Linked DNA regions of Homo sapiens. The protein of the gene in region 1 interacts with the protein of each later gene in a pairwise test. Each region holds a gene or a part of one and is shown in the gene's direction. Other genes may lie near its edges. The genes, in order: DLG2, AOAH and DSCAM.

Region 1 (3,753 bases):
TGAAGGGGAATAGAGGTTTTCTTCTGGAGAGCCTGAGTTCTGAGTTCTGTATTCCTATATACTTTCATAGAACACTGAGTAATCAGACTTTGTGAAATTTGCCTTACACCTGGTTCCCGGAGGTTTAAAAACAAGAACTTTCGAGCTGGGCTTATGCCTCTAATCCCAGCACTTTGGGAGGCTGAGGTGGGTGGATCACCTGAGGTCAGGAGTTCGAGACCAGCCTGGCCAACATAGTGAAACCCCCGTCTCTACTAAAAATACAAAAAATTAGCTGGGTGTGGTGGCAGGCACCTGTAATCCCAGCTACTAGGGAGGCTGAGACAGGAGAATCACTTGAACCCAGGAGGTGGAGGTCGCAGTGAGCCGAGATCGTGCTACTGCACTCCAGCCTGGGCAACAAGGGTGAAATTCTGTCTCAAAAAAAAAAAAAAAAAAAAAAAAAACCCAAGAACTTTCTTCCTGGATTACCATATGTGAAGTTAGATGTTTTATTTTTTACCTTATTCAGAATATAGAAAGTGTCAGTGCCTTAGCAGTTTGTAAATATCTTGAATCAGGTAATATTAAGTAATCTTTCTGTCAGTAACCAAGATACGAGCTGTGTTTCATCCTAAAAGAACATCCAGGTAGGAGAAACAAAAGTGTACATTTTGACAGTGGTTTATATTTTGTATACAATACAATAATATATTCTGAGGATTGTTTTTAAATATCTAAATCATCTTTCAGTAGTAATTTATTTTTAAGACCTAGTGTCATATGGATAATACTGATGTGTTTTGGAAATCTTTCTACAAGATAACTTTTGTTCAAATGAGACAATAAAATGTACTTAAATCTACTCCAAGTGACTTAGTGTTTTAGGAGATACACAACTGAGCAGTTTGTTTATATTTCTTCCTGTTTATGTTTCTTATAAATAGTGGACTTATGGTATTCTCAATATGAATAGCTCTGTATGGTAAAAATCTCAAGTTACCAGAGATTTGGGGAATTAATGGGTTTTCCTATTAAGGGCTTTGAGGGTTGGGAGGCTAACTAAACTTCCCTCTAAAATCTTCATTATTTCCTCGGTGTCTACAATATCTGAATTTCTGCTGCTGCCAAAATAAGTAAATATACAGACTGTAAGGCCAGTTTTCTTTTCTAAATAGGGAGCTCTCAGTCTGAAAATTGATCATTGCCCAGCTCAGTGCCTGGCTCAGAGTAGGCACCCATAAAATATTGGTTAAATAGATGAGTGATAAATTGTCCAGTACTACAGACAGACATGTAGAAAGTGCAAAGACTGTGAATCATTTGTTACTGATCCAGGATATCCATTGAAAGCATTTCTTAAAATCATGAATGTAACTTTGCTTATATGAATTTTCTGCTTCTTCTTACTAATGAAAAATGATATGAAGCTTCCTGATGAGTCATCTGCTACTGATTTGAGCCTCCAATGTGTAAGTGATGATTGTTCTTCACCATCCAGGAAATTATTTCTAATTCTGGGTGTGTTTGCTTTTGTTACAGCTATTGTCCAAGGAGATACTTTAGAAGATATATATAACCAATGCAAGCTTGTTATTGAAGAGCAATCTGGGCCTTTCATCTGGATTCCCTCAAAGGAAAAGTTATAAATTAGCTACTGCGCCTCTGACAACGACAGAAGAGCATTTAGAAGAACAAAATATATATAACATACTACTTGGAGGCTTTTATGTTTTTGTTGCATTTATGTTTTTGCAGTCAATGTGAATTCTTACGAATGTACAACACAAACTGTATGAAGCCATGAAGGAAACAGAGGGGCCAAAGGGTGGGACAGAAAAGACATTGCAGTATGAAGGAAGGCTTTGGTTTGCTCAAAGTGCCAGGTGTAGGGATGAACCTCTGACGGGCTTTCTGCCCAAGAGATGAGATGAGAGCCTCCTCACCCCAGCAGATGTCCAGAGCTGATTTAGCTGCAGAGCTCTCTGTGTCTTTTGCTTTAAAGAAAAATTGCCAGCACTCGAACCTCATCAGCCTTCCCATTACCCACATCTGTAATTGGTACACTTTGAATTTTATAACTATGCACATCTTTTGATTTCTTAACAAGCAAATGAAAGAAAGAAGGAAAAAAGAAAGGAATCCCTTTGGAGATGACATACTATCAGGGAAGGATAAGTGTGTAGTTTTTTGACTGGCATCTGCAAAGACAAGAATTTCATAAAATTTGCAAGTGTATGGAGGACTAACCTCACTGACAGGAGGGGATTCCACCTGGGATTAGCTTTATGATTGTTGATTGCCTATTTTGCCATTTATAAACTGAAAGAAGGCACTAAAGATGAGAATAATTTATACAATAAAAATATATTAAATGTATAGAAACAAATTTCTATAGGTTAAAAAAGTTTTGTGAAATATTTTGTAAAGACTAATATTGAAAGACTAAATGTATGCAACATCAGCAGATGATCAAATTCAAGACCTGAAAGTTGCACTCTCCCTTTTGTTGCCAATGATCTGTTAAGAGCATCTGAGTTCCTTTTAAGTCTGACAAAGACTTCTTCCTCACTTACCTCCCTTCCACATTAGTGATACACTCTCATGCAGCACATCCCTTAATGAGTTGCCCTCATGGATATTTTTGGAAGACATTTGGTTAATGCATTTTTTTATGCTGATGGCTTTTCAGAGACAAACTTATGCAAATGATCTAAAGGGAAGTTTTTGCTTTCCTCTAGTTAAATAACCTGAGCCTGCCATGCAAATAGTTGAATAACTTTGTTCCTAGTTACTGACATACAATTCTTAAAGGACCATTTAGCATTTTGGCCAACAATGAGTAATTAGGATTAGTACCTTTTTGTTTTACAGAGTAACTGAGAGTTTTGTAACATCCAGAGATGGTACTAGAGCCAATGAGAGATCTGTTCCTAGATGCACTATTTCTTTGAGGAAGAGAGAGAAGAGAAGTGTCTGGTTGGGGGTGAGGGGGTGCAGACTTTTTTGTTTCTATGTACAGAGCAAAGAGATAGAGTCACAAGGAAAGACAATTAATGACTTTGAGCTCAACCAACTGAACTGCCTTTCTTGGAGCTGCACCTGGACCAAGTTTATTTTTTAACAATTATAATAACGATGATTTAAAAAAAGAAACCTCCCAAAGCCTATAAACTGAACTAGAAGAGTTGGTTTCCCACTTTAGAGTGGATGGCGACATCAGCATTGCTTTTGCCCATGGTGTTTGGGGAGAGACTTTTCAGTGATAATAACCACTCTACTCTGGGTTCTGTGCATGCCCAGACTAAGCCCCATCGCCTTATTTCTGGGGTACATCCAGACCTGGCAGGGATTCTGCCACACTGTGCAGCAAACCAGCATGTAGGCTGGGTAGGAGAGCAAGAGATAGAGCCATCAGAGTGATGGGGCTTCTTCACAGTAAGAACATCGGAGCTTAGAATGAGAGTCTCTTTCCAAAAACAGGCATTGTTCATCTTACGCTAAACATCATTGTCTGCCTGGCTACAGTCACCAAAACAAAACAGAAATGCAAAATTATGCATCTTCCCATAGTCCTGAGGCTTCCTTTGCCAATGGAAGGGCTAGCAATGCATTCTCCCTCTCATGAAAGTTAAATTTCCAGAGACTTCCTTAGATTGCTCAAAATGTTAAAGATATGTCCATGTCTGCAATTCGCCAGTTTCAGGTCAAGGCCTACTTTCATCAATATTGCTCCCAGAAGTTTTCTGACACCAGAATGCCATTCCTGATCCC
Region 2 (3,753 bases), on another chromosome or scaffold:
ACTGTCACCTCTGGAAACAGGAAGGGGCTTGCTCAATACTGCACAGCTAAGTCAGCGACTCCCACTGTGACCAGCCCCGAAGCCTGAGCACACTAGAGAGTTTCAGAGCCGACCATCCCTGGGATGGTTGTGAATGGCACTGCCTGGCCCACATACATGCGATGAAGGGCACAAAACTTGCATTTCCGGCATACCAAGAAATCCCTCTCACTCTAAGAGTTTCCAGACCTGCTCGCAGCTATACATTGAGACCAGGAGAGCCTCAAGAGGCCCAAAGCCTGTGTCAAATGCTCTTCCAGAAGCCCTCAGGAGAGTCCTCACCCATTTATGGATTAGACAAACTAGACCACACACTCCTGGAGTGCTGTAGCACAGCTGGAAGGTATTCAATAAATCCTCCCTTTTCCTGTCCTCACCATTTCCCATGTATGACATGATGGCCTACAACTACCATGGGCGTCTTGGAATTCTCTTGAAGCTGGTCTGGGGTGCAGGTTTCATCACACTCCTGCTAGAGTCATAGACAGATGCACTAAGCACTTACTTCTTGCCAGCCATGCTGCTTTGTTGTTTGGATACATCATGTATTCGAGTGCTTCCAGCAGCGCATTGGAGCGGATATTACCATTATCCCAATAGAAATGAGCTACTTGGGAGGCTGAGGTGGGAAGATCACTTGAACCCAGGAGGTCAACACTGCAGTGAGCTGTGATCACACCACTGCACTCCAGCCTGGATGAAAAAGCAAGGCCCTGTCTCAAAAAACAAACAAACAACAACAACAACAACAAAAACAAGACACTGAAGGGGGGAAAGTTACATCACTGGTCTAATATATTACTCAGAATAAACAGTAGACATGAGACGTAAGCATGAGCCTTTCTGTCTTCACAATCTGAGTTCCTAATCAATCAGTCCTTTATTTAGCCTCCCTTGGAAGTCTCTGGAACTTCTCTAGGCCTCACCCCTGTGGTGGTCCTAGTGACCCCAGAGCTCCCCTTAGTCACAGAGTGAAGAACTGAAGCAGCAGCACCTTAGAGTCAGAGGAAGTCACAGGCCCATGGACGCCTAACGATATCCTCAGTATTGGGCTGGAAGTGTAATTAGGGAAACACTCTGACTTGTGCTATCTCTGCAGCAGGTTTGGGAATTGTAGCCCCATCGGTGCTTGTAAGACTAATGACTGCACAAGAAATCTTCCAACCATAAAAACTGGTATTTCCTACATCCTGGAAAGGATGCTACTCTAAAACTTTGCCTGCTACTCCAAATGCTATTTTTTTTAATTGCTAACAATTTAGATAGCTTCTATAATATTTCAAAATTTGTAATAAGCTCCCTCAGAGCCTAAGCAGAGAGAAACAGAATCTCATGACCTCCTACACTTACCTAGACTGTGGTACTTTGGCCCTGTCCTCTTATCTTGACTGAGAATGGCATATGATTTTGTTTTATCTTATTTTAGAGAGAAACATTTAGATTATATGTCTTTTATCTATGATCTGGTTCCGATTTTTTTTTTCCCTCAGAAAGACAGTGTTCAGTTCTATTCTTCAGAGCAGAAAATCAGTCTCTTAACAAATCATCCACAAAATGCACTTCGAAATTCTGGAGAAAAAAAAGATGCATTGTGCACAGCCTAGCAACTGTGAATTGATTAATTCTAACCCATGTTTTTTCTCATTAGGTCTAAAATCCCACCATGCTAACTGCCCATTATTTTCTGTACTGTTTATTTTCTGCACACCAAATAAAAGGCCTTGACCCTTCAAGGAATAACCCAATTTCTCCAGAGGAAAGATATTATTTGACCAGAATATCCTTTTACAACAAAATAAGGATCACAACCTTACCATATAAAGCTGTTGAAAACAAGACTAAGTAAGTTCTGAATGTAACCAATTAGAATTTCTACAATATGTGGGTGCTGCTGATCAAATTGTTAAAGGGTTGTGTGCTTGTGGATTAGTTTTTTTTTTCTTTTTTCTTCTCAGTTTTGGCTTTAGTATCGTTTTGTTTTGTTTTGCAAGAATGAAAGGGGAAGGGCCTCCTAACCAACCCAACAGATCAGTTCCGGCAAGCCTCGAGGCTCACGGGGTTTATGCACACTAACTTCACTGAGCCAGGGAGCACGGAAGTTGTGCCACTGTGCAACTTGGGTTTTCTTTATCCTGCAGTCTTTACCTCAGCAGAACCGCACACCACAGACTCCCTCCAGCTCTTTGTGTGTGGCTCTCTCAGGGTCCAACAAGAGCAAGCTGTGGGTCTGTGAGTGTTTATGTGTGCTTTTATTCACTTCACACTTATTGAAAAGTGTGTATGTGAGAGGGTGGGGTGTGTGTGTCAAAGAGAGTGAGGAAGAGAAGGAGAGAGAGATCAATTGATTCTGCAGCCTCAGCTCCAGCATCCCTCAGTTGGGAGCTTCCAAAGCCGGGTGATCACTTGGGGTGCATAGCTCGGAGATGCAGTCCCCCTGGAAAATCCTTACGGTGGCGCCTCTATTCTTGCTCCTGTCTCTTCAGTCCTCGGCCTCTCCAGCCAACGATGACCAGTCCAGGCCCAGCCTCTCGAATGGGCACACCTGTGTAGGTATGCAAATAAATATTTTTGTATTTTCTATGTAGACATAACAATGGGATCCAGTACTTTGCTTGCGTAATAAATCACATATTTTATTAAATCAAGAATTGTAAGATTCCAGGTAAGGCACCAGTAACCTCACTGACACAGAGAAATGTGGAGTCTAAGAGTAGACATTGACACTACATACATCTATGTGAATAAAAAGCATACTAGTTTAAATTGGGCATAAAACTCTTCCACCTCATTGGCGATTGGAATTTTTTCTTCTTGTATAGGTAACTATTATTTCAGGCTATTTTAGTCTGAAATTTTTACTGCTTTTCATGGGCTTTGACCTCATATAAACACATCTGAGTTTGAATCACTGCCCTCCTCCTACCCTTCTCTCCCATTTCCTACTGGCTGTGGAAACCTGGAGCAATGTACTTAACCCTCTCCATGCTTCTGTGTCCTTATTGGTGAACTGAAGTGAGTGAGACCCATCTCATAGGGATACCATGGAAATTGTGACCATGCATGTAAATCTGTGGCATGTGCACACAGTAAGGACTCAACCATCTTAGCTTCCTTCCGTCTCTCAGAGAATCCAGATTTGGCGATCACCTGGAGACGCTGAGCGTTGATATGGCTTCTTGGCTCATCTGTTAATGAAGTGTTTTATTTCCAAGAGGTTTTTTTTGTTTGTTTTTTTTGGATGAGAGCAGGAAGTAAGGTAAGATCTTTGATATTCACATTGTAGCTCTCATAACATGGGAATTCTCATAATAGTGGTGGCATTTAGATGGTACAGTCCATGGAGCCACATAGACTCAGAACTCTGAGTAGTAAGTAATTGTTCAATGAGCAGACCTCAAAATACAATCCTAGCTTGAGAAGCCAGGAAAATAACTCTAGGATAAGTCTGATGGCTACATGCTGCAAATGGAAAATCTGGACACAGATTCTGACACTTAGGAATTGTTTCTGGAGACAATATGGAAATATATCTGAATTTGTCCTACTTCCTCAAAATCATGGCCTCAGGTCATTGTACATGTTAGGAGATGCATCTCTACTTCCAAAGTCCTTTTTTTTTTTTTTTTTTTTTTTTTTCTGAGATGGATTATCGCACTGTCACCTGGGCTGGAGTACAATGGTGCAGTCTCAGCTCACTGCAACCTCTGCCTCCCT
Region 3 (3,753 bases), on another chromosome or scaffold:
GACAGGAATAGAAGGTACCAACCCGTTGTTGCAAACACACCATGTTCCAGGCCAGCTAGCCAGGGTGGAGAAGGAACATGGCTGCAGATAACAGGGCTGAAGGAGTTAACAGGAAGAATATTTCAGCATTCACAGGGGTGAAGAACATGGGCTTCAGGCTGACTGCAGGATCTGCATCCTCCTTTCAGCACTTGGGACTCACCGCTTAACTGCTCTGGACTTCAGTGTCCCACGTGTTCTGTGGGAGAGTCGTCACTGTTCCATAGGGTTGCAGAAATACTGTAAGCAAAGGGCTTAGGACAGGGCTTGGCATGGAGTGAGTGCTCTAGAGTGGACAGTCATCCTTACTAGTTGTAAAAGTAGAGGTAGTGCTCATGTGGGGGAATGAATTGTTGGAGGAATTTTTCAAACCAAAGAGAAGCCAGGTTACTGTCAGAATAGTGGGATGGCTGCAAGACTTGGAGCTGTTTCTCCTAGTGTCTGTGAACTGTGAGACCAGGAGTACATGAGGAGTGAGGCAGTTGAAGAAATCTCTACTCCCATTGATAATGTATCCCTTTCCCAGAGATTCGAGTGTCTTGCAAAAATAACAGCTTCAGCCTATGTCTTCACTCAAGGATTCAGGCATGTATGATCTGAGGGACAGATATTTGGCAACTTAAGTATTCCCTGCTGCTCAATATGGCTTTTAGAAGAGAATGAGCAGAAAACAGCAATACTTCACAGTGATAATGTCTGGTGTGGCCCAAATGACTCACTAATCAATACATCATGGTGCTTCTCCCAGGCTGGGTTACATTTCCTGGAATCAGAAAGAGCGAAAATGTTCCTTCTGAAGATTCTTCAGTTCTGAGAATGCTCGTTCTATTACCCACACAAAATGCAAGCATCAGTCCACTTCCCATAGAAAGCAAACACAGTGCTCATGTGAATCTTTCTCATTCTCTGCAGGATACATACTGCAGTACTCCGAGGACAATAGTGAGCAGTGGGGGAGTTTTCCAATCAGCCCCAGCGAACGTTCCTATCGCTTGGAAAATCTCAAATGTGGGACTTGGTATAAGTTCACACTGACAGCCCAAAATGGAGTGGGCCCAGGGCGCATAAGTGAAATCATAGAAGCAAAGACCTTAGGAAAAGGTAGGTATGCCTTCTCATCGCTTCTTAATATCCTTTCTTTTCCCGGCCAGAAGAGGAGATTGGAATCATAAAAGATCCATCATGTTTTACGTTTATGTGTTTGAACTTTGTCATTCCTCACATGGCTTCAGCAGTGCCACGGCATAATGAGAGGGACAGCTGGACCTTCCAGAGTGTTCTGGTCCTCTCTTTTATTGTTTCATTTGCAGTTAAAAAGAAGAATGTCAGTTTGAAAATCAAGGGCGTTGGTGTGAATGTGAGGTGCCAAGGCTGGGCAGCCATGAAGCGTGGCGCTTGCCCTCTCAGCCGTTTGGAGGCGCCCTTCTCCCTTAGCCACCCTTGCTCCCACCTTCCTATCATTTCCACATTGCCACATAGCCACCGCTTTTCAGAGGGAAAATGATGGGGTAAATTGCGTTTGTTTTTTTTTTAATCTAAAATGTGGACTTTCAAGGAGATGAATCCCAAAGAAATCATATTCAGAGAAAGAGGTTTTGTCCCAGGAACTCCAGAAGGAAGGAGGGATGATGCAGCTCTATGTGGGCATAGGAAGAAGGTGAGGAGATGTCTTTGCAGGCTTCCCTCCCATAGGAGTCCTACCAGGTGGGGTGGGGTCAGATGGCAGGAGAGCGAGTAATGAGATAGCAAGGGTATTATTTGTGCCTGGTGCCACAGTTTTGGGTAACAAGTGGTAAGAGGTCAAATGATCGGGGATTGATTTATGCAGAAATATATCCTTTAGGTCCCTGGGCACCAAGACCAAGTGTTTAGTTGTGGAGGAAAATCTGTTGGTGCTTCCCAAATCCAACTCTGTCTTCTCTTGAATCAGGTTCATCACATGAGGATGGAAAAAGTGCCCAGCACACTGCCCCGCAAACCACAGAAGGAAACCCATATGTGAACATCCTATTGTTCTTTAGGGAACTCTAAGATACCCCAAAATAACCTCCACCCATGCAATTTTCTGTCACACACCCAGGTCATTACAGTTGGAGAAAGCCTGTTGGTCCATAAAGTCTCTATTAACAGGGGACAAGTTGCCAGTGGCCTGTGAGCCAGACTTGGACTGAGCTCCTGGCCTCGCTGGAGGAAGCAGTCCGAGGGAAATGCGTGAAGATGCTGATGGCCTCCCCATGTGTCCTGTGAGCTGACCTCCATGTGCCTTCTCCCCCAGAGCCCCAGTTCTCAAAGGAGCAGGAGCTGTTTGCCAGCATCAACACCACACGCGTGAGGCTGAACCTCATTGGCTGGAATGATGGCGGCTGCCCCATCACCTCCTTCACACTAGAGTACAGGCCCTTTGGGACCACAGTTTGGACCACAGCTCAGAGGACCTCTCTCTCCAAGTCCTACATCCTGTATGACCTGCAGGAAGCCACCTGGTATGAGCTGCAGATGCGGGTGTGCAACAGTGCGGGCTGCGCGGAGAAGCAGGCCAACTTCGCTACGCTGAACTACGATGGCAGTAAGCTGGCTGGCTTTGTGGCTCTCCTGCTTGTGTCTTGGGGGATGTGCACGTGGGCCCTGCCCCTTTCCCATCGAACATCATCTTTGCCATAGTTTGACCAGTGCCCACGGAGCCCATTAGGCTTTCGGGATTCAATGGACTCTGTCTGGGGCTCCCTAGTTCGTTATATCCAGATGACCATCACTGTGTGTCCAGAAATAAGAGACTCAGGGCCATAGGGAGTCTCACTGGGGAGTCATGGGGCAGGAGTGATTTCTCTTAGGGCTGAAGGACTCTTGACCCTGTGGTTCTGTGCTTGTGTTGATGTCTATGAGCTAACATTGCTTTTGTTGTCTCCCACCCCTTTCCCCACCTCATCCCAATCCACATAACAACTTTCTTTTTTGCACTCATTACACCCTAAACTGCATGTGCAAAAACAATTTTCCATGGTAAAGGAGCTTATGTTAGTCTCTGGGCAGGAGCAGGGCCACTGATGGAAATAGGATAATAATAGGAATCCATGAACACGTGCACACACACAAACTCACACACACTTGCCACTTGCATTTACTTTCCAAAAACTAGGTGAGGTGTCTCTTGACATTAGTTAACCAAAAATAAATGGTTTAAAATCTCACTCATTTTTTCTGGTATCAAGGGCCATTTATTGCTAACTGAACAAATGCTAAGCCCAGTGAAGCTGAAAGGAGCGAGTCCTCGACTGCAACTTAGTAGGGGAACTTTAGAAAGTCCCAGCAGCAGCGGGCTGATGCTCATTTCTCACTAGGGGAACAGCAAGGATTGAGTTAGGTGCTCTAATTGCAAGGTAAAAACGGCAGCAATGCATCAGGATGAGTTGGAACTCCAGTGCAACTCTCCTCAGAGCCTTCTATTCACTGCCTGTTGGTCAGGCTAGACCACAGTGTTGAATGAGTTAACCAAGAAACACCCAAACCCTTTATTGACAGCCAAGCCAAGACCACGTTGGAAGTGCTCCTCTACCTGTGGGTGATGCTTTGTGAGGGGATGCCTTTCAATGAAGTCACTCATAACTGAGGGCTGTAAAATTAGACAGAGGCAGCCCATGAAAAGCATCAGCATTGCTCTCTAGGAGAGTGATTCTTTCTTTACTTTGTGCATTTGGGAGGCCGCTTTATTAAAGC

The links.
Region 2: the proteins of DLG2 (region 1) and AOAH interact in binary tests that used the Homo sapiens proteins (3 or more experiments, as listed by UniProt).
Region 3: the proteins of DLG2 (region 1) and DSCAM interact in binary tests that used the Homo sapiens proteins (3 or more experiments, as listed by UniProt).

What each region holds. Positions count from the first base shown.
Region 1 is NC_000011.10:83,457,693-83,461,445, reverse strand, and holds part of DLG2 (disks large homolog 2), read left to right. Parts: intron 1-1,521; coding exon 1,522-1,628; 3' UTR 1,629-3,753. UniProt on the Homo sapiens protein: Required for perception of chronic pain through NMDA receptor signaling. Regulates surface expression of NMDA receptors in dorsal horn neurons of the spinal cord.
Region 2 is NC_000007.14:36,722,858-36,726,610, reverse strand, and holds the start of AOAH (acyloxyacyl hydrolase isoform 1 preproprotein), read left to right. Parts: upstream 1-2,116; 5' UTR 2,117-2,462; coding exon 2,463-2,589; intron 2,590-3,753.
Region 3 is NC_000021.9:40,077,539-40,081,291, reverse strand, and holds part of DSCAM (cell adhesion molecule DSCAM isoform CHD2-42 precursor), read left to right. Parts: intron 1-951; coding exon 952-1,140; intron 1,141-2,314; coding exon 2,315-2,605; intron 2,606-3,753. UniProt on the Homo sapiens protein: Cell adhesion molecule that plays a role in neuronal self-avoidance. Promotes repulsion between specific neuronal processes of either the same cell or the same subtype of cells.